Regions from separate parts of the Homo sapiens genome. Here region 1 is linked to region 2. Evidence: fine-mapped expression QTL. A gene starts in region 2. The other region holds a variant in brackets. All regions are shown on one strand. Distances are from middle to middle.

Region 1 (10,308 bases), 33 kb before region 2:
GGAGTTCGAGACCAGACTGGCTAACATGGTGAAACCCCGTTTCTACTAAAAATACAAAAAATTAGCCGGCTGTGGTGATGCGCGCCTGTAATCCCAGCTACTCGGGAGGCTGAGGCAGGAGAATCACTTGAACCCAGAAGGTAAAGGTTGCAGTGAGCCAAGATCGCATCACTGCACTCCAGCTTGGGCAATGAGAATGAAACTCCATCTCAAAAAAAATAAATAAAATAAAATGTCCTTATTTATTGGAGTTGCACTGTGATATAAAGGAGTGGTATGTCATGATATTTGAGATTTGCTTTAAATAATTCAGCAATAAGAGAAAAAGTGATGTAGAGAGAAAGGGAAAGATGGATCAAGGATGAAAACAGTTTAACACCTGAAATGGATACAGTGAGATCCAAAGTTTCAGGGTCAAGATTAATTTGAATCAGATTATTTTAAGGCAATTTTAACATATTCTTCAGAATCAACAAAATGTATGAGCATAAAGATAAAGAGTAACAAGACCAGATGAAACAAGACCAAATCAGATTGGCCAATTGAAAGCTAACTTAAATGGATGAACCTACACTGAAACAGAAATAGGCAACTAGGATTGAAATGAGGCCAATTCAAATTAGATTAAAGCAGTGCAAAATAGGTCTAAGCAGATGCAAAGAGAACAAATCAGAACTATGTAATTCATAGCTATGCCAGATGAAGACAAACCTTGAGAAAGATGCTGAGAGAAATGTGAGGAACTTTGAAAATCTGACTCTCATCAAGAACTCAGGAATATCCAGAATAATTTTGTATTTGCTAACCTAGTAATCAGTTTTAGTTTTTAAATAAGTGAATAAAAACATGATGTATGATATCCAGTAATCTATAAAACATCAAACTGACAGATTTATACCTTAAACGTTAAACATTTCCAACTTCTAGGTCATAGAAGGCATCTCTTACTATTCTCCTCCTTGTTCTCTGTACTCCAACCACCTTGGCCTCCTTGCTTTTCCTCCAAAGGACTAGATATGCTCCTGCCTCCAGGGCCTTGGCACTGCTTTCCCCTTGTCTGGAGCAGTTTCCCACCTGACCCACATATCCAACCTCCTCACCTCCTTCAAGCCTTTGCTCAAATGTACTTCCTCATAGAGGCCTACCTTGATCATGCAATTTAAAAGTTCAGCCAGTTGCCTCCACACCCGGCACTTCAGATCTCCCTTAATCTACTCTACTTATATTTATATATATCTTATACATTTTTTTTTAGCTATGTAGCACTTATTATCCTTTGACATATATAATTTACCTATATATGCTGCTTATTGTATATTGTCAGTCTACCTATACTAGAATATAAGCTCCACGAGAGAAGAAATGCTTTATTATTCTATTCACTGATATGTTCTAAGAGATTAAAACATTGGCTGGCACACTGAATATGGTCAGTAAATACTTGAATGGAAAAATGAAGGAAGAGAACATGTCCTTACCCAATGAGACCAGATTCCTGAGATTTTCCAGCATCACTTCTTTGTATAGGTTCCTCTGCTCAAGGCTCAGTCTCTTCCACTCTGCCTCAGTGAAAAGCACAGCCACATCCTCGAAAGTCACTGGTCCCTAAATCAACCGATAAATTCATATTCATCAAGTCACCATTAAGATTCACAGTGAAAATGGAACTGGTGGTCTTGGAGCATCTAGCTACATAAGAAATTGATCTAGGCCGGGCACGGTGGCTCACACCTGCAATCCTAGCACTTTGGGAGGCCGAGGTGGGAGGTTATCTTGAGGTCAGGAGTTCGAGACCAGACTGGCCAATATGGTGAAACGCTGTCTCCACTAAAAATACAAAAATTAGCTGGGCGTGGTAGCACACGCCTGTAGTCCCAGCTACTTGGGAGGCTGAGGCAGGAGAATCACTTGAACCTGAGAGGCAGAGGTGGCAGTAAACCAAGATCACTCCATTGCACTCCAGCGTGGGTGACAGAGTGAGACTCCGCCTCAAAAAGAAAAAAATGGATCTGCTACTTGGGAGGCTGACATGAGAGGATTGCTTGAGCCCAAGAGTTCAAGACTAGCCTGAGCAACACAGTGAGACCCTGTCTCTATGAAAAATAAACAAAAATTAGCCAAGTATGGTGGTGTGCACCTGTAGTTCCAGCTACCCAGGAGGCTGAGGTAGGAGGATTGCCTGATCCCAGGAGGTCAGGGCTACAGTGAGCTGAGATCGCACCATTGCACTCCAGCCTGGGTGACCAGAGCGAGACCCTGTCTCAAAAAAACATACACCATATGCTTTTTCATCTTCAAGTCTCTTCTCTTCTAAATGAGTATTCAGTGGTGTTCTATCTTTAGTTACACTTGAAAGGTGGCATTGCCCTCAGATACCAAGGGAGTCACCAATCAACTTCTACTGAATTCAAGCATTATTTGCTCAGTGACCAACTGCTTCAGCCTATGGGTATTCCATGACACTCCTAACTTGCCCTAGATTTTTTTTTTTTTTTTTTTGATACGGAGTCTCACTCTGTCACCCAGGCCGAACTGCAGTGGCGTGATCTTGGCTCACTGCAGCCCCTGCCTACCGGGTTCAAGCAATTCTCCTGCCTCAGCCTCCCAAGTAGCTGGGACCACAGGTGCATACCACCACACCTGGCTAATTTTTTTTGTATTTTGTTTTTAGTAGCGATGGGATTTCACCATGTTGGCCAGGCTAGTCTCCAATTCCCGACCTCAAGTGATCTGCCGGCCTCGGACTTGCTTTAGAATTTTAACTTCACTCTGCAGACTTTGGGAACAGTTGCACATTATTCCCAGCTGCCTCTGATTACCCTGAGTACCTCTTCTCTGACTCAGCTTCTTCCTCCTATTCTCAGGTATACATCAATCTTCTTGTCCACCTTCCAAGTGGTCCTTGGCACTCTAGGAGTTGGTAATGTATATTCCAGGTTCTAAAGCTAAACTAATTAAGCTTCTAGCAAATCAAAGATGACAGTAGGGGCTGAAGGAAACACAGTGCAAGGCTACCAAGCCAGAGCTTCCTAGCATCCTCCCCTGAGAGCTGGACTATAAAAGAGATTTAATAAAACCCAGCACAGAAGTGCAGAAGCAGTAGAGAATAATAATGATGCTGAGCTAAGAGTAGGAAACTAGGTGTAGATACTGAAATCCTTGAGTGTGTGAGAAGTTTTGGGAGGGATGTCACATCTATAGCCAGCAGCCCAGGCAGTCAGGCCGCGTGGCACAGTGTACGAGGGAGGACAAAAAGTCTAGACAGCAGGCCAGGACCCAGGATTAGGCAGCCAAGGCCTGAGCGGGCAGTGGTGTGGGCTGCTGTCCCTTACATGCTTTCCATGACCTGCTGCTTCAGGCACATCCTGGTTCTCATATTCTCAGTGATCTTTCCCCTTTTCTTTTTATACCCCAGGTCTCATAATTTCTCTTGTTCAAGCCTTGTGTCTCTCATGTTCCAATATCCTCTCCATTTCTCTCTTGACTCCTCTTCCCCCTCTAGTTTTTCCACTGAAACATAAAACAACAGGCTCAGCTACAATGGAAGCTAGGCTTTTTGCTCAGTGGATGTAGTAGGAGCCCAATCTATGGAGTCAGACCGCACAAGTCCAAATCCCAGCTTTGCCACTTATACAATACATGACCTTTGGAAGCTTACATAACCTCTCTGTGTCTTAGTTTCCACATCTATAAAATGGGCTTGATAATGACACCTACTGTCTTAATAAAGATAAAGCACTGACATCAATGCCTCACATGCAGTAAACACTTGCTATTACAATTTGCTATAACTAAGCAATAGAATGTTTTATATTTAAGTGAAAACTGATTTTTAAAATAAGTAAATAATTTTTGGTTCTCAAAAAGTAATCAAACATTCTGTCCAGTACAAGGCAAGAAGAGGAAGTAAAAAGCACAGAGACTGGTAAGGAAGAGATAAAATTACCCCTATTTGCCAAGGACACGGTTTTCTATGTAGGAAATGCAAAGGAATCTATAAAAATGATCATATAACTAATAAGTGAGTCCAGGAGGACTGAAAGATACAAGATGAACACATAAAAATCCATCGTATTCATATAGATTAACAACGACCATGTGGAAACTGAAATTAAAAACATACCATTTACAATCACTCCCGCAAAAAAGAGGTGCCTAACATAACTCCAGCAAAACAACTATAACATCTGTACACTGAAAACTACAAAATGCCAATGGAAAAAAAAATCAAAGATCTAGATAAATGGGGAGGCAAAGCACGTTCATGGGTTGGAAGGCTCAACATAGTAAAGATGTCAATCTTCCCCAAAATGATCTATAGATTTAACACAATTCCCATCAAAATCCCAACCAGATTTTTTTGTAGATATAGACAACTTATCCTAATATATATGATAAGGCAAAGAAACTAGAAGAACAAAGTAAGAGAGATCACGCTACCTGATATTAAACTTACTATTTGATCACCACAATACTTGAGACAGGGTATCTATGGAAGAATAGACACACAGATCAATAGAAGAGAACCGAAAACCCAGAAAGAGATCAACACAAATACCCCAAAGTGGATTTTTGTAAAAGTAATTCAATGAAGAATAGACTTTGCAACAAATGGCACTGGACCAACTGGATATTCACAGACAAAAAAATTAACCTCAACCTAAAACCTCACACTTTATTAAAAACAAAAAACAAAAAAAATCAAAATGAATCACGAATTTAAATATAAAAATACTAGAAAAAATACAGGAGAAGATCTATATTGGGACCTAGTGCTTGGCAAAGAGTTCTTAGACATGACACCAAAACCACAATCCATTAAAAAAAATAATAATAAACCAGACTTCACCAAAATTAAAACTTTTTTCGGTGGCTCACGTCTGTAATCCTAGCACTTTGGGAGGCTGAGGCAGGCAGATCACCTGAGGTCAGGAGTTAGAGACCAGTCTGGCCAACATGGTGAAATCCCGTCTCTACTAAAAATGCAAAAATTAGCTGGGTGTGGTGGCACACGCCTGTAATTCCAGCTACTCGGGAGGCTGAGGCAGGAGAATCGCTTGAACCCAGGAGGCAGGGGTTGCAGTGAGCCAAGATCATGCCACTGCACTCCAGCCTGGGAGACAGAGCAAGACTCTGTCTCAAAACAAAAAACAAAAAACAAAACAAAAACAAAAACAAAAACTTTTTACTATAGAAGACCCCCATCTCTTCCAGAACACAAAGCAGAGGGAACATTTCCTAACCCATCCTATGAATCCAGCATTATCCTAATAGCAAATCTAGATAAAGACATTAGAAATTAAAACTACAGATCAATATATCTCACAGAGATACAATACCCCCTCCCAAAATATAAGAAAATCAAATCCAGAAATGCCCAAGAAGAATTACATACCACACTTGGGTTTATTATAGTTCTGCAAAGCTGGTTCAACATTTGAAAATCAATCATTGTGGAGGTCAGGGTTGGTTTTTCAAGATGGCGGCCTTTGAGGCTCTGGTGTCTGGCTGTGGGCAGCTTCC[G/C]TGTGGGCTCCTAGCAGGCCCAGCAGTGACCAGCTGGTCTCAGCTTCCAGCTCGTGGTTTCAGGGAAGTGGTGGAAATCCAAGAAGGAAAGACAACTATAATTGAAGGCCGTATCACAGCGACTCCCAAGGAGAGTCCAAATCCTCCTAACCCCTCTGGCCAGTGCCCCATCTGCCACTGGAACCTGAACCACAAGTAAAACTATGATGATGTTTTGCTGCTTAGCCAGTTCATCCAGCCCCATGGAGGCATGCTGCCCCGAAAGATCACAGGCCTATGACGGGAAGAGAACTGCAAGATTGAGGGGTGTGTGAAGATGGCCTACCGAGCAGGTCTGTTACCAAATCACAGGCCTCAGCTTCCTGAAGGAGTTGTTCCAAAGGGCAAACCCCAATTCAACCAGTACCTGACCCACTGGGGTCCCCGCACCCTCATGCCCATCTACAAAAAAAGGCCTCCCCTGGAACAGGGCGTTCATGGCCTTGGGGTCAACCCTCCTGAGGGACAATGTCTGCTACTCAAGGACACCTTGGAAGCTGTATCACTCACAGACAGAAGAGCTTCCAGAGTTCCTCCTGCACCTGCGCTGTGGAGTAGGAGGCGTACTCACAAGCCCTGGGCCACAACTATACTCCTGCCCCACCCCACCATGACGGCCTGGCCCCTCTGACATGTATGGACAGGGGACAGTGGGATGAACTTCAGTACCCTTGGCCTCCCCAGTAGCAATGCTGGGAGCTAGAGGCAGGCAGGGCAGTTGGGTCCCTTGGCAATTGCTGTGGGGCTTGGGCCATACTCAGTGCTGGGGACAGGAGTTTTGCCCAGTGGAATGTCATAAACTAGGCTCATGGGCTTGAAAAAAAAAAGAAAAGAAAATCAATCATTGTAATCCACCATGTTAACAGGCTAAAGAAACAAAATCATATGATCATATCATTTGATACAGAAAATACAAAACCCAACATCTAGTGATTATAAAAATTCTTAGCTGCCAGGCGTGGTGGCTTGTGCCTGTAATCCCAACAGTTTGGGAGGTCAAGGCAGGAGGATTGCTTGAGCCCAGGAGTTTGAGACCAGCCTGGGCAACATGGCAAGACCCCGTCTCTGGCCAGGCATGGTGGCTCTTGCCTATAATCACAGCACTTTGGGGGGCTAAGGCAGGCAGATCACCTGAGGTTACAAGTTCGGGACCAGCCAACGTGGCAAAACCATGTCTGTACTGAAAACACAAAAGCTAGCCAGGCGTGGTTGGTAGCACCTGTAATACCGGCTACTCGGGAGGCTGAGGCAGGAGAATCACTTGAACCCGGGAGGCGGAGGTTGCGGTGAGCCAAGATCGCACTACTGCACTCCAGCCTGGAGAAAGAGCGAGACTTTGTCTCAAAAAAAAAAAAAAAAAAAAAAAAAGTAAAAACTCTTGGCCAGGCATGGTGGCTCACGCCTGTAATATCAGCACTTTGGGAGGCCAAGGTAGGCAGATCACTTGAGGTCAGGAGCTTGAGACCAGCCTGGCCAACATGGTGAAACCCCGTCTCCACTAAAAATACAAAAATTAGCTGGGCGTGGTGGCGCACACCTGTAATCCCAGCTACTTGGGAGGCTGAGGCACAAGAATCACTTGAACCCAAGAGGCAGAAGTTGCAATGCACCAAGATGGCGCTGCTGCACTCCAGCCTGACAGGTAGAGTGAGACTGTCTTAAAAAAAAAAAAAAAAGAAGTAATAGCTCTCAGCAAACTAGAAATACAGCAGAACTTCCTCAATTGACAAAGAACATCTACAAAAAACCTACAACAAATATCCTACTTTATAGCAAGAAACTAGATGTTTTTCCTAGATAACTGGAAACAAGGCAAGGATGTCTTCTCTCACCACTCCTGTTCAACATTGTACTGAAAGTCCTAGCTATTGCAATGAGACAAGAAAAAGAAAATGTACACATATTTGAAAAGAAGTAAAGCTGTCTTTGTTCACAGATGACATGACTGTCTACATAGGAAATTCCAGAGAATCTACAAAAAGAAATAAAAAAAAAAAACCTTGGAACTAATAAGCAAACATAGAAAGGTTGCAGGATATAAGATCATCTGCTTTCCTATATGTCAACTGCTTTCCTATATACCAGCAATGAACAATTAGAATTTTAAATTTTACACACACACATACACACAGAGCACCAAAAAAATTAAATACTTAGGTTCAACTCTAACAAAACATGTACATAGTCTACATGTGAAAAACTACAAACAATGATGAAAGAAATCAAAGATGATCTAAACAAATGGTAAGACAGTCTATCTTCATGGATAGTTAGACTCAGTATTATGATATCAGCTCTTCCGATCTCAATGTATAGATTCAATGCAAACCCAGTCAAAAACTCAGCAAGCTATTTTGTACCTATCGAGAAACTGATTGTAGAGTTTACATGGAAAGACAAAAGACCTGGAATAGCTAACAAAATACTGAAGAATAAAGTTGAAGGATTCATATTACCCAATTCCAAGACTTATTATAAAGCTACATTTATCAAGACAGTGTGGTATGGGCAAAAACAAAGGCAAGTAGATCAGTGGAACAGAATAGAGTCCAGAAATGACCGACACAAACATCGACTGATTTTTTGTTTAGTTTTTTTTTTGAGACAGAGTTTCACTCGTTGCCCAGGCTGGAGTGCAATGGCACGATCTCAGCTCACCGCAACCTCCACTTCCTGGGTTCAAGCAATTCTCCTGCCTCAGCCTCCCAAGTAGCTGGGATTACAGGCATGAGCCACCACGCCCAGCTTGTTTTGTTTGTTTTTTAAGAGATAAGGTCTCGCTCTGTCACCCAGGCTGGAGTACAGTGGCATAATAATAGCTCAATGTAGCCTTAAACTCCTGAGCTCAAGTGATCCTCCCACGGCAGCCTCCCAAGTAGCTAGGATACAGGTACATGCCACCAATCCCAGCAAATTTCTTAATTTTTTATAGAGATGGGTTCTTGCTGTGTTGCTCAGACTAGTCTTGAACTCCTGGGCTCAAGCAATCCTCTCACTTGAGGAAAACATCAAACAAATCCCAAGTAAGGGACAATCTACAAAATATCTGACTAGCGCCGGGCACGGTGGCTCACGCCTGTAATCCCAGCACTTTGGGAGGCCGAGGTGGGTGGATCACGAGGTCAGGAGATCGAGACCATCCTGGCTAACACGGTGAAACCCCGTCTCTACTAAAAATACAAAAAAAAATTAGCCTAGCGTGGTGGCAGCCGCCTGTAGTCCCAGCTACTCGGGAGGCTGAGACAGGAGAATGGCGTGGACCCGGGAGGCAGAGCTTGCAGCGAGCCGAGATGGTGCCACTGCACTCCAGCCTGGGCGACAGAGCGAGACTCCGTCTCAAAAAAAAAAAAAAAAAAAGAAAAATATGACTAGTACTACCTTGGAGACGTGACAACTAAGTGTAACATGATAACCTGGATGGGATTTTGGGACAGAAAATGGTCATTAAAACTAAAGAAATCTGAATAAAGTTGGACTTTAGTTAATAACCACCATTATTATTGGTTCATTAATACTAACGGTGATGGCCGGGCATGGTGGCCCACACCTGTAGTCCAAGCACTTTGGGAAGCCAAGGCAGGTGGATCACTTGAGGTCAGAAATTTGGGACCAGCCTGGCCAACGTGGCAAAAGCCCATCTACTAAAAATACAAAAAATAGCTATGTGTAGTGGTGCACGCCTGTAATCCCAGCTACTCAGGAGGCTGAGGCAAGAGAATCACTTGAACCTAGGAAGTAGAGGCTGCAGTGAGCTGAGATTGCACCACTGCACTCCAGCCTGGGAAACAGAGGGATCTTCTGTCTCAAAAAATAAAAATAAAAAACGCCCAGATTATTAAGATAAAGATCTACATAAATGAGGAAAAAATTGTCTAAATAAATGGAGAGATACTGCGCTGATGGACCAGAAAACTCAATAATGTTAAGATATTATTCTCATGGCTGGGCGCAGTGGCTCACGCCTGTAATCCCAGCACTCTGGGAGGCGTGTGGATCACGAGGTCAGGAGATTGAGACCATCCTGGATAACATGGTGAAACCCCGTCTCCACTAAAAATATAAAAAATTAGCCGGGCAAGGTGGCAGTGGCCTGTAGTCCCAGCTACTTGGGAGGCTGAGGCAAGAGAATGGCGTGAACCCCAGGGGGCGGAGCCTGCAGTGAGCCGAGATCCTGCCACTGCACTCCAGCCTGGGCGACAGCGAGACTCCGTTTCAAAAAAAAAAAAAAAAAAAAAAAAGATATTATTCTCCCCCAAACTAATATAAAAATTCAAAGCAATTCAATCAAAATCCCATTGTACAAATTGATAAGACTTTCAATTTCAAATTGATAGATTTCAATATTTATATAAAAATGCAAAAGACAGCTGGGCATGGTGGCTCATGCCTGTAATCCCAGCACTTTGGGAGGCCGAGGCGGGTGGATCACAAGGTCAGGAGATCGAGACCATCCTGGCTAACACGGTGAAACCCCATCTCTACTAAAAATACAAAAAATTAGCCGTGCATGGCAGCCTGTGCCTGTAGTTCCAGCTACTAGGGAGGCTGAGGCAGGAGAATCGCTTGAACCCAGGAGGTGGAGGTTGCAGTGAGCCAAGATTATGCCACTGCACTTTAGCCTGGGAGACAGAGCGAGAATCTGTCTCAAAAAAAAAATAATAATAATAATAAAATTTAAGGACTTACACTACCTGATTTTAAGACTCACCATAAAGCTACTACATTAGTGAGGAGCACAATACAAAT
Region 2 (10,308 bases):
GTTGTGGCTCACGCTTGTAATCACAGCACTTTGGGAGGCCAAGGCGGGCGGTTCACCCAAAGTCATGAGTTCAAGACCAGCCTGACCAACATGGAGAAACCCCGTCTCCACTAAAAATACAAAATTAGGTCGGGAACGGCGGCTCACACCTGTAATCCCAGCACTTTGAGAGGTCAAGGTGGGTGGATCATGAGGTCAGGAGATCAAGACCATCCTGGCTAATACGATGAAACTCTGTCTCTACTAAAAATGCAAAAAATTAGCCAGGTGTGATGGCACGCGCCTGTAGTCCCAGCTACTTTGGAGACTGAGGCAGGAGAATTGCTTGAACCTGGGAGGCTGAGGTTGCAGTAAGCCCACACTGCACCACTGCACTCCAGCCTGGGCAACAGAGCGAGACTCTGTCTCAAAAAAAAAAAAAAAAATTAGCCAGCGTGGTGGTGCATGCCTGTAATCCTAGCTACTCGGGAGGCTGAGGCGGGAGAATCACTTGAACCCAAGAGGCGGAGGTTGCAGTGAGCCGAGATCGCCCCATTACACTCCAGCATGGGCAACAAGAGTGAAACTCCATCTCAAAAAAAAATAAAAAATAAAAATAAAAAATAAAATAAATAAAGTTCAAAATCAGGTAAAACTAGTCTGCATGCTAAAAATCAAGATACTGGGCCGGGCGTGGTAGCTCACGCCTGTAATCCCAGCACTTTGGGAGGCCGAGGTGGGTAGATCACTTGAACTCAGGAGTTTGAGACCAGCCTGGGCAACATGGTGAAACCTTGTCTCTACTAAAAATACAAAAAATAAGCCGGGCGTGGTAGTGCACACCTGTGGTTCTGGCTACTCGGGAGGCTGAAGTGGGAGGATTGCATGAGCCTGGGAGGTGGAGGTTGCAGTGAGCCAAGATCCTGCCACTGCACTCCAGCCTGGGTAACAGAGTGAGACCCCATCTCAAAAAATAAATAAATAAATAAAATGAAATCAGAAGATTAAAATGACTATAATAGCAATGAATGTATAATATTAAAATCCAAGGCCAGGTGCAGTGGCTCACACCTGTAATCCTAGCACTTTGGGAGGCTGAGGCAGGCGGATCATGAGGTCAGGAGTTCAAGACCAGCCTGCTCAACATGGTGAAACCCCATCTCTACTAAAAATACAAAAATTAGCTGAGTGCGTGGCGGGCACCTGTAATCCCAGCTACTCTGGAGGCTGAGGCAGGAGAACTGCTTGAACCCGGGAGGCAGAGGTTGCAGCGAGCCGAGATCACGCCACTGCACTCCAGCCTGGGTGACAGAGCAAGAGTCCGTCTTGAAAAAAAAAATCCAGCCTGGATTATATCTATCTGGTTCATGACGAGGGCCATCTCATTAACGCCCATGTAGACTATCAAAGAGCAAGGCAGGGCAGGGGTAATAAGAGGGTTGTCACGGTAGCAGGATGGATAATCATGGGAGGAAACTGGAAATAGATGCAGTCGGCACAGGCTCTTGGTATCCTTGTGAGTGACCCCTCCCTCAGTTTGGGCAGTGGTGTGACAGCTGGGGTTGGGGATGCTGCTTTGCAGCATTTGCAGATTTCCATGGTGTAAATACTGCCTCCCACCATGGCCAATTTTAAGCCGCCAAGAATTTAACACCGAGCTCAAAAAAGTCCTGAAAATTTAGGCCGGGCGCAGTCGCTCATGCCTGTAATCCCAGCACTTTGGGAGGTCAAGGCAGGCAGATCACAAGGTCAGGAGATCGAGACCATCCTGGCTAACACAGTGAAACCCCGTCTCTACTAAATATACAAAAAATTAGCCAGGAGTGGTGGCAGGCGCCTGTAGTCCCAGCTACTCGGGAGGCTGAGGCAGGAGAATGGTGTGAACCCGGGAGGCGGAGCTTGCAGTGAGCCGAAATCACGCCACTGCACTCCATCCTGGGTGACAGAGAGAGACTCCGTCTCAAAAAAAAAAATTCCTGAAAATTTAACAATTGGCTCTGACACAGCATATGCCCCTGAGTTTCCTCCCTAGAACTCTCTCTAGCACTCTGTAATGATACAGAGTGAGAAGCATCTACCTCCTCCAACCTGCTTGAAATCAGCCACACCTGCTCGTCATGAAGAAGCAAGCATGGGCAGGGCACAGTGGCTCACGCTTTGGGAATTGAGGCAAGAAGATCGCTTGAGCTCAGGAATTCAAGACCAGCCTGGGTAACATAGTGAGACCCCATCTCAAAAAAGAAAAGAAGAAGCAAGCATAACAGAAAACAAAGCAAGTGTTCTTGTGAGGTTTTGCCTTCTCTTCCTCTCAGAGAGGGATGCCTGTGTCTTAGTTTAGGTTGGCCTGGAAGCAGACCTGAGTTAAGGATTTAAGTGAGAGTAGTGTATTTGGGAAGCAACTACAGAAAGCACCTGCAGGAGTGTAGAGAAGTGAGACAGGGAACGAACAAGTCAGAAGAGGATGTGGTCATGAACAGGTCTTTGTTGAGGGTAGCCCACCTGGGGACCTCTGGGAGATGTGAAACACACCTCTGAGTGTGCCCCCCACGGGTGAGAAGAACAAATATTTTTCCACCAGCTCCCACCTATCATTGGTTGAGGCTGCTCCCTGGCGCATAGACTTCCCAGTACTTCCAGTTGAGCAACCCCATAGCAAAAAGCTGCAGGTGCTTCTAGTGGCTACAGAATGGTGAGTGGGGAGAACACGATCCATGTCTGAAACACCAGCACAACAGAGTCGCGACCTGTGTGTCACACTCTGCATGTCTCTTCTAGCCACAGCACCTCACTCCACTGAGCAGGATTCTCCTTTTTTTGTTTGTTTGCTTGTTTTAGAGACGAGGTCTCACTCCTTTGCCCAGGCTGGAGTGAACTAGCATGATCATAGCTCACTGCAGCCTTGAACTCCTGGGCTCAAGTGACCCTCCCACCTGAGCCTCCCAAGTACCTGGGATTACAGGTGTGCACCACCACACCCAACATATTCTTGGTCTTTGGTTTTTATTTTATTTTATTTTATTTTTTTGAGATGGAGTTTCGCTCTTGTTGCCCAGCTGGAGTGCAGTGGCACGATCTTGGCTCACCACAACCTCCGCCTCCTGTTCAGGCGATTCTCCTGCCTCAGCCTTTCCAAGTAGCTGGGATTACAGGCATGTGCCACCATGCCTGGCTAATTTTTGCCACTTTAGTAGAGACAGGGTTTCTCCATGTTGGTCAGGCTGGTCTCAAACTCCCAACCTCAGGTGATCAACCAGCCTCAGCCTCCTAAAGTGCTGGGATTACAGGCATGAGCCACCACGCCTGGCAGGTTTTTGGTTTTTATGAGCCCAGTCACCTTTGTTTCACCCTGTCACCCAGGCTGGAGTGCAGTGGCGCAATCTCAGCTCACTGCAACCTCTGCCTTCCAGGCTCAAGCAATCCTCCCACCTCAGCCTCCCGAGTAGCTGGGACTACAGGCACGCACCACCATGCCCAGCTCATTTTTGTATTTTTAGTAGAGACAGGGTTTGTTATGTTGCCCAGGCTGGTCTCAAACTCTTGACCTCAAGCAATCCACCCGCCTCGCTTCCCAAAGTCCTGGCATTACAGGTGTGAGCCACCACGTCTGGCCATATTCTTGTTTTTAACAATCCCTAAACACAAGCTCACAAGTTAAATCTGCTACCCACCTGAAGAAACTGTGATGTGTCCCAATGCCAGAGGAAATGCCAGGAGTTATGGGCTTTCCTGAGTTAAGTCTTTTAGGAAGCATTGGAATTTTATGGGAATTGTACCTGCAGGGAGACCGCACCCAGTTGGCCAGCCACCCATGGGACTGGACCATGCTTCTCTGAGTGTTAACAACACGCTTGGCCCCTCCCTTGAATGTCACCTCCCCATGAGCAGGAACAGCTCCACAGCATTCCCCCACCACCACACACAGAGTAGAGCTCCTTAATTCCCCACTGGGGGTTCCACTGAGAATGGGAATGCCATCTTGGATCTCTTGGCCCTACTGCCTTACCCTGTGTCCTCCTGGATGGAACACTGCCCTCGCCACCTCTGTGTCACACTCACACACACTCACACTCACACGTGGACTCCCTGAGCTAAGGGCTCAGTTGTGGTGAGAGAGAGGAGGCAAAACAAGTGAGACTGAAGCCTGAGGAAATTGCTCTCATAGTTTATTTCTCAGAGCCCAGAAGCCTGAGCCAGGGTAGGGCACACACTAGGACTCTGTCCTGGGTACAAGATTCCGCAAAAAATCCTTGATTCTCTGGACAATTCTTTTAAACTCTTTGCCAATCTTCTCTTTAGATTTCCGGAAGAAATCACCCAGCAGGGCAAATCTCTTGTTATCCTGGGGTTGTGTACAGGAAGAAACAGGTTCCTTGTCGGGGATGTACCCAGGGTCAATCCAAGACCCCTCCCCACCTAGACGCCCCTCTTCGTGGGCCCCCGCAGGAGCTTTGGGGCCCCAGTTCAACCTCTGGCTGTGACCTTTGAAGCATGTGATTGAATCCCTACACCCAATAAAAAGATGAGAAAACAGAGTCCCGGAGATAGTGAGGGGCTCTGCAGGGTCACACAGCCCAGCCCAGCAACACTGAGATGGGAACACAGGGCTGAGAGCTGAGTACTCTTAGACAGTGGCTCTCAAACTTTACAGAAGCCGGAATCTCCTGGAAAGCTTATCAAAATACGAATTTCTGGGCCCTACCCAGAGTCTGTCTGAGTAGGTCTGAGTAGGGCCTGAGAATTTGCATATCTAACGAGTCCCCAGGAAGGGCTACACTTGGAGATCTACCGCTCTAAGGGATTCCAGAGCCGGCCCTGGAGATGGAACTCAGGTTTGGGGAAGAGCCCTGGGTAGGAGGGGCTTTCTCTGTCCTGGGTTGGGGGAGTAGTTAATTGACCCATTGGATGGTCCACACTCTATGCCCCCATCAGCCCCTGCATCCCAGAACAGCCCACTCACCTTATCACAACTGATGTCAAAGGAGCCCCTGGCCTGGTTGAGGGTCACTGTCCCCATACACCGCTTCACCAGCTGGAAAGGAGAAGCTCAAGGTCAAACTTGAAACCATTTGCCATGACCTCCCAGCCACATCCCAGTGGGAAATATTCCCCAGGTGCCCCCTGTTCAGCTCCTTGGGAGGCACCCACCAACACCCCCAGCCCCCAGCCTCACCCCGTCCTTCTTGAAGTCACAATCCTCTGGTGACTGCTGTGTCGTCCTGGGGCACACTGTCTCCTTCACTGTGAAGCTCACAGGCTTTGGCGTGTCTGGGTCCCCATCCTAGTCAGAGGAGGAAATGGGGAGGCCCATTCTTGTATTTTCTGATTTGTGTCCATGACCTCCCCACCAAGAGGGCAGGCTTTCCACAGTACCTGATGTGCGACGGGCACTGGGTGCTGGGCTTGGCACTGGGGCATTGAGGGGAGGAGGACTGAGCCATTCCTACCCTCCTAGGTGAACAGTGAGTAGGAGCAGACCTCAGATGAGCTCTAACAAGGAGCCCCTCCCACTCTGGGGTGGGGGCAAGGGAAGTCAGGGGGCTTCCTGGGGGACAAGACATGCCCACTGGAACCTAAAGTCTGGATAGAGTTCTTCCCTATGTGGGGTAACGTGGTACAGAAGAGACTTAAAGCAGAGGAGGTCACTGCCCAGAGCCAATGACCCCATTCTAGTGCCTGGAGCTCGCAGAAGTCCCAAAACCTGCGTGGGGTCGGGGTGAGGGTATCTCTGCCACAGCAGGAATTATAAGGCAGGAAGCTCTCGAGCTGGGAGGAGACACGAGCTCTAGAAGGTTCCCTGGAAAACACGGGACCACATTTAAAGGGGGAGATGCCCTCCTGGCAGGCAGTGCAGCAGGAGCAGAAGGAACAACACGTGGCCAAGCCCAGCCAGAGCAGAGCAGAATGTCCCCCAAAGCTCACCATCGTGGGCCTGGGGTCCAGGTCCAGGAGGCGGTAGAGGTTAGCATCCGAGGACCGCTGGTTGATGCCATCTATAGCACGAAGCACAGCTTCCTTGTAGCTGAGGACCTGGGCAATGATGGCCAGAGGCATCACCAGGCCCAGCAGCAGGAGCACCAGTGACCACCGCCCCAGGGAGTGGCCATCCCTTTGGGTCTTCATGGTCCCCATGTCTGCCTCCCTCTAGCCCACAGGAGCCTCCTTTATGCCCAGCCTGAGCCTGATGCAAAAGCCCAACCAGGAGCCTTCCTGATCCACCCATCCCTGGCTGCCTGCCAGGGTGTGGGCTGGGGTTTGCTTTAGCCCCTGGCTATTGCTTCACAGGACTTGCTGGGCAGTGAGTGAGGCCTTCCTTGTGTGCAAGATGAGGAAGTGGTTTCTTCATCTCTGACAACCTCCCAGACCTGACCGGAGATTGTCATAGCCAGGGGTGCTCAAGAGCGTTAAATCCCTCCAGAGAGGAAGAGAGCCAGGTGCCTATTCTACATCCTTCTACTCCTCAGGAGTCAGTATGATGGACTGCTAAATCTCCAGCTCTAGGCATTGCCTGGCACCCTGTAGGCATCGATTAAGAATTGATGAATGAGGCAGGGCACGGTGGCTCACGCCTATAATCCCAGCACTTTGGGAGGCCAAGGTGGGCGGATCACCTGAGATAAGGAGTTCGAGACAAGCTTGGCCAACATGGTGAAACCCCATCTCTACTAAAAATATGAAAATTAGCCACGCATGATGGCTCACACCTGTAGTCCCAGCTACAAGCTGAGGCATGAGAATCACTTGAACCCATTGAACCCGGGAAGCAGAAGTTGCAGTTAGCTGAGATCATGCCACTGCACTCCAGCCTGGGTAACAGAGTGAGACTCAGTATGAAAAAAAAAAAAAAGAACTGGTAAATGAAGACAGTAGCCACCCCCAACCTAGAGACTCACTCTTGCAAGGGACAAGTTGCCCTTTCAGTTCAAGGCCATACCACATGCTCTCTGGACCCAGCCGTCAGCCAGACGAAGGCTCTGCTCCATCTATCCCCTTCTGCATCCTTCTTCACTGTTTTTTTCAGTCTCAAAATGTTCCCAAGCCCCTCCAGACATGGCCTTTCACCATGGCTTCTCCCAAGCCAAGTCTTAGGAAAGGTTGTCTACGCTTCTTGACCCCATCTTTTCACTCTTCTTCATGCTGAAGGCCACTGAAGGCTGGCCAACCCACCCTTGGTCCATGGCCACCCTCAAGCCTGGTCTTTGTCTGCACAGGCACTGGTGAGCCTTCCTTCTTGCTGCCCCGGTCTCCCCTGATGCCACTCTCCTGCTGTCCCTCCTGCCTCCCTGGTGGCTCCTTCTTGGTCTCCCCTAAGGGCTGTCTTCTTAATATTGAGAGCGTGTGGGGTCACCTCCTGGGCTGCTTCTCTTCCCTGGCCTCGGGTTTCCCTGGGGACGCCCTCTCCCAGGACACCAGTTATAATAGGCAGACACCACCCAGTCTGTATCTCTGAGTTCGAGACTCCCATGAACGTCCCGGTTGTCCCCACTGGGCCTCCTTGACTGCTCTTCTGCTGAGTGCCCACTGCATGAGCCCTGAAGCACCTTTGGCTCCTTCCTCCCGAAAGCACTCCCCTCTGGCCTCTCCTTCCACCCCTGCCTGGCTCCTGCCGCCATCTTCTCTCCCATGCAATGCTGCCCCAGCCTCCAGACTCCACCTTCTCTAGGTTTCAGGCTCTCCCCAGACCACAGTCCACCCTCCACACCGTTGTCCAGGGGTTCCTTTAAACCACCAATTTGGCCATTTCAACCCTCTACCTTCAGGAGCCCACACACCCCCTAGGCTGGCATCAGGGCCTGTGGCCTTTTGGTTCCCACTGCCCTCACCCCAGCCCTGCACACTGCAAGTGCCAGACTGTCACGTATGCCCCCATCACATAGGCTCATCTGAGCCTCCTGCTCTTTCTCCCAGCTCTGCCCCGATCCTTCTGTTTGGCCTGCCCTTTCACCTCATGAAGCTTTCCCTGACCTCCAACCAGGCACAGCAATCTCCTCTTTGCCCCTACATCTTCCAGGAAGTCTCTCCTGATTCGACCTCAAATTACTCCCTGTTTGGTGCTCTAGCTGAGACACCAAGCTGGGATGGGTGGCTGGTGTTGGGAGAGGGAGAGATCACAGCCAGGAGAGATAAAGGGCCAAAGTGATAGAGGGGTCCAGCGTCCATGAGGCAAATTCCGGTCCCAGCTCCTCTGTGGACTGGCCATGTGGCCCTGAGGCCTGGGGTACCTCTTGACCTCAGTTGGCCTGTGGGACACTTGGGGGCTTGGACAGCAGGGCTCCTGGAAGGTGGAAGCCTGGACGAAGGCCACCGGTTGCACACCTGGCCTTGAGAGAAGGAAGAAGTGGGCTTCTGTGCAACCTGGTTTCACAGTTCAAGTGTTGCCCCAGTGGCCTGTTGGTCAAGCAGGGCTTGCACATCAGGTCTTTTATGGCTGTTGGGAAAAGGGCCATCCAGGGATATCAGACCTCTCAGGGCTCTCCTGCTTCCTCCACCCTTCTGACTGGCTTCAGGATCCCCAAGAAGCCAAACCGGGGAGAAGCAGATGGCAATGTTAGTCCTTAGGCTAGGGCGTGAGAGCTGCATGCTCCTGTGTTCCTCTAGGTCAGATCTGGCATATTCAGAGCCCCTTTCCAACTGCCTCAAGAGGACGTTCCACTTCGGCCAGTGCTGGACACGCCCTCACATGAAATCAGCCAGAGCCCAAGCAGCTTGCATAGGCCCTCTGATACAACTGCAGAAGTCTGGACTCAGGGGCACTTGCTTTCCCTCTCAGGGCCATCGCACAAGGTCCAGGCTTCCCAGGTTCCAGGAGTGAGTCCTGCCCTCGGCACATGCAGGTCGGTGTCCACTACCTGAGGTAGGGCGGCTGACTTCAGACCTTTAGAACCCATGGCTGCCCCTTCCTCCTAGAGAGGGAGAAAGGAGGCTCTCACCAGCTCGCCTTTTTCATAATGGCTCACCCCATTAATAGAGTGATCAGAAGATTCTAGGCAAGGCGGAATGAGAAAAGAAAAGTGAGGCTTAGCCGGGCGCGGTGGCTCACGCCCGTAATCCCAGCACTTTGGAAGGCCGAGGTGGCCTGATCATGAGGTCAGGAGATTGAGACCATCCTGGCTAACACAGTGAAACCCCGTCTCTAGCTGGGTGTGGTGGCATGCGCCTGTAGTCCCAGCTACTTGGGAGGCTGAGGCAGGAGAATGGTGTGAACCCAGGAGGCGGAGCTTGCAGTGAGCTGAGATGGCGCCACTGCACTCCAGCCTGGGCAAGAGTGTAAGACTCCGTCTCAAAAAAAAAAAAAAAGTTAGGCTTTTCCACATCAAGACTTGAGGGCTAGATAAATGTCCCTTCACAAAGGCCTGGGCAGCCCCTGTCCCTCTGTCTCTCTATCTCTCTCTCTTTCCTCTCTCTCTCTGAATCTCCCACCCTGACTTCTCTAAGTGGCCCCTTCCTCTCCTGCAGACCCAGGAGGCTCCAACTCCTACACAATGTGATCAGGGAACCTGGTGCACTGGGACTGCTGAAGGCTCTGAGAGACTTTCCACAGATGAGCAGATGCTGGAGCTACCCTCTCCCACTCCACAATCCCTCCCCCATTGGCGAACAAAGCCCAGCTTAGCCCCCACTCTGCGTTCCCTCTCTGGCTCCGTGTCTGCAGCCCTGGTTGTCCTGGTGGAAGCACCCACCTCCTCAGGCCTGCTTGCCCCTGAGACAGCCTTCATCAGAATGGCCAACTTGTCTGAAAAGTAGAGAACCAAGCAGGCAGTTTGTTCATCCCCTTGGGGAGCACTGGGGAGGGAGTCCTGGGATGGGAATCCCAGGAACCATATTCGTCACCAGCCTCTGTCTCTGTGGGTGAGTCACTGTCCCTGTCCCTCCCTGTGCCCAGAATCTATAGTCAGCACAGAAAGCCCAGGGCTTTGCAGGCAAAGAGCCCAGGTTCCCTCATGAGGCTGACTGGGTTCCTGGCTCAGCCCTGCTGCGACCAGCTGTGTATCTGCATACCGATGTGTCTGCTCTCCTGCCTCCTCATCTGTAGAACAGGGATGATCATCACAATGTCTAGTTTGTAGAATTGTTGTGAGGGTCAAATACAACATGGTCTGTGGCCAGTACATGTGAATTGTTTTTGTTGTTATTAATGTGACCTGTTAGGTTAATGCTTCAGAAGTAAACATAGTGTGCTCCCAGAGATAGTAACTTTGTTGGCCAAGCATGGTGCTTCAGGACAGGAGTTCGAGACCAGCCTGGGCAACAGAGCGAGGCCCTGTCTCTACAAAAAAATTTTAAAATTAGCTGGGCATGGTGGTGTGCACCTGTGGTCCCAGCTACTTGGGA

What was found.
Region 1: its variant is fine-mapped to the expression of CAMP in whole blood (TOPMed, PIP 0.90).

What each region holds. Positions count from the first base shown.
Region 1 is chr3:48,252,110-48,262,417 of GRCh38, reverse strand. ZNF589 (zinc finger protein 589) reads right to left here. Exons shown (of 4, transcript NM_016089.3): 3 at 1,479-1,605. It also overlaps the pseudogene MRPS18AP1. Among named protein-coding and RNA genes, the nearest start is that of ZNF589, 16 kb to the right of the region's middle. RefSeq lists an enhancer at 5,548-6,118. The variant G/C (reference allele first, on the strand shown) is at 5,524.
Region 2 is chr3:48,219,303-48,229,610 of GRCh38, reverse strand. CAMP (cathelicidin antimicrobial peptide) reads right to left here and starts at 6,116. Exons shown (of 4, transcript NM_004345.5): 1 at 5,899-6,116; 2 at 5,150-5,257; 3 at 4,937-5,008; 4 at 4,126-4,318. The coding sequence starts at 6,099. The coding sequence ends at 4,187. RefSeq lists enhancers at 1-424, 6,442-6,491, 6,502-6,631, 6,652-6,771 and a silencer at 6,138-6,432.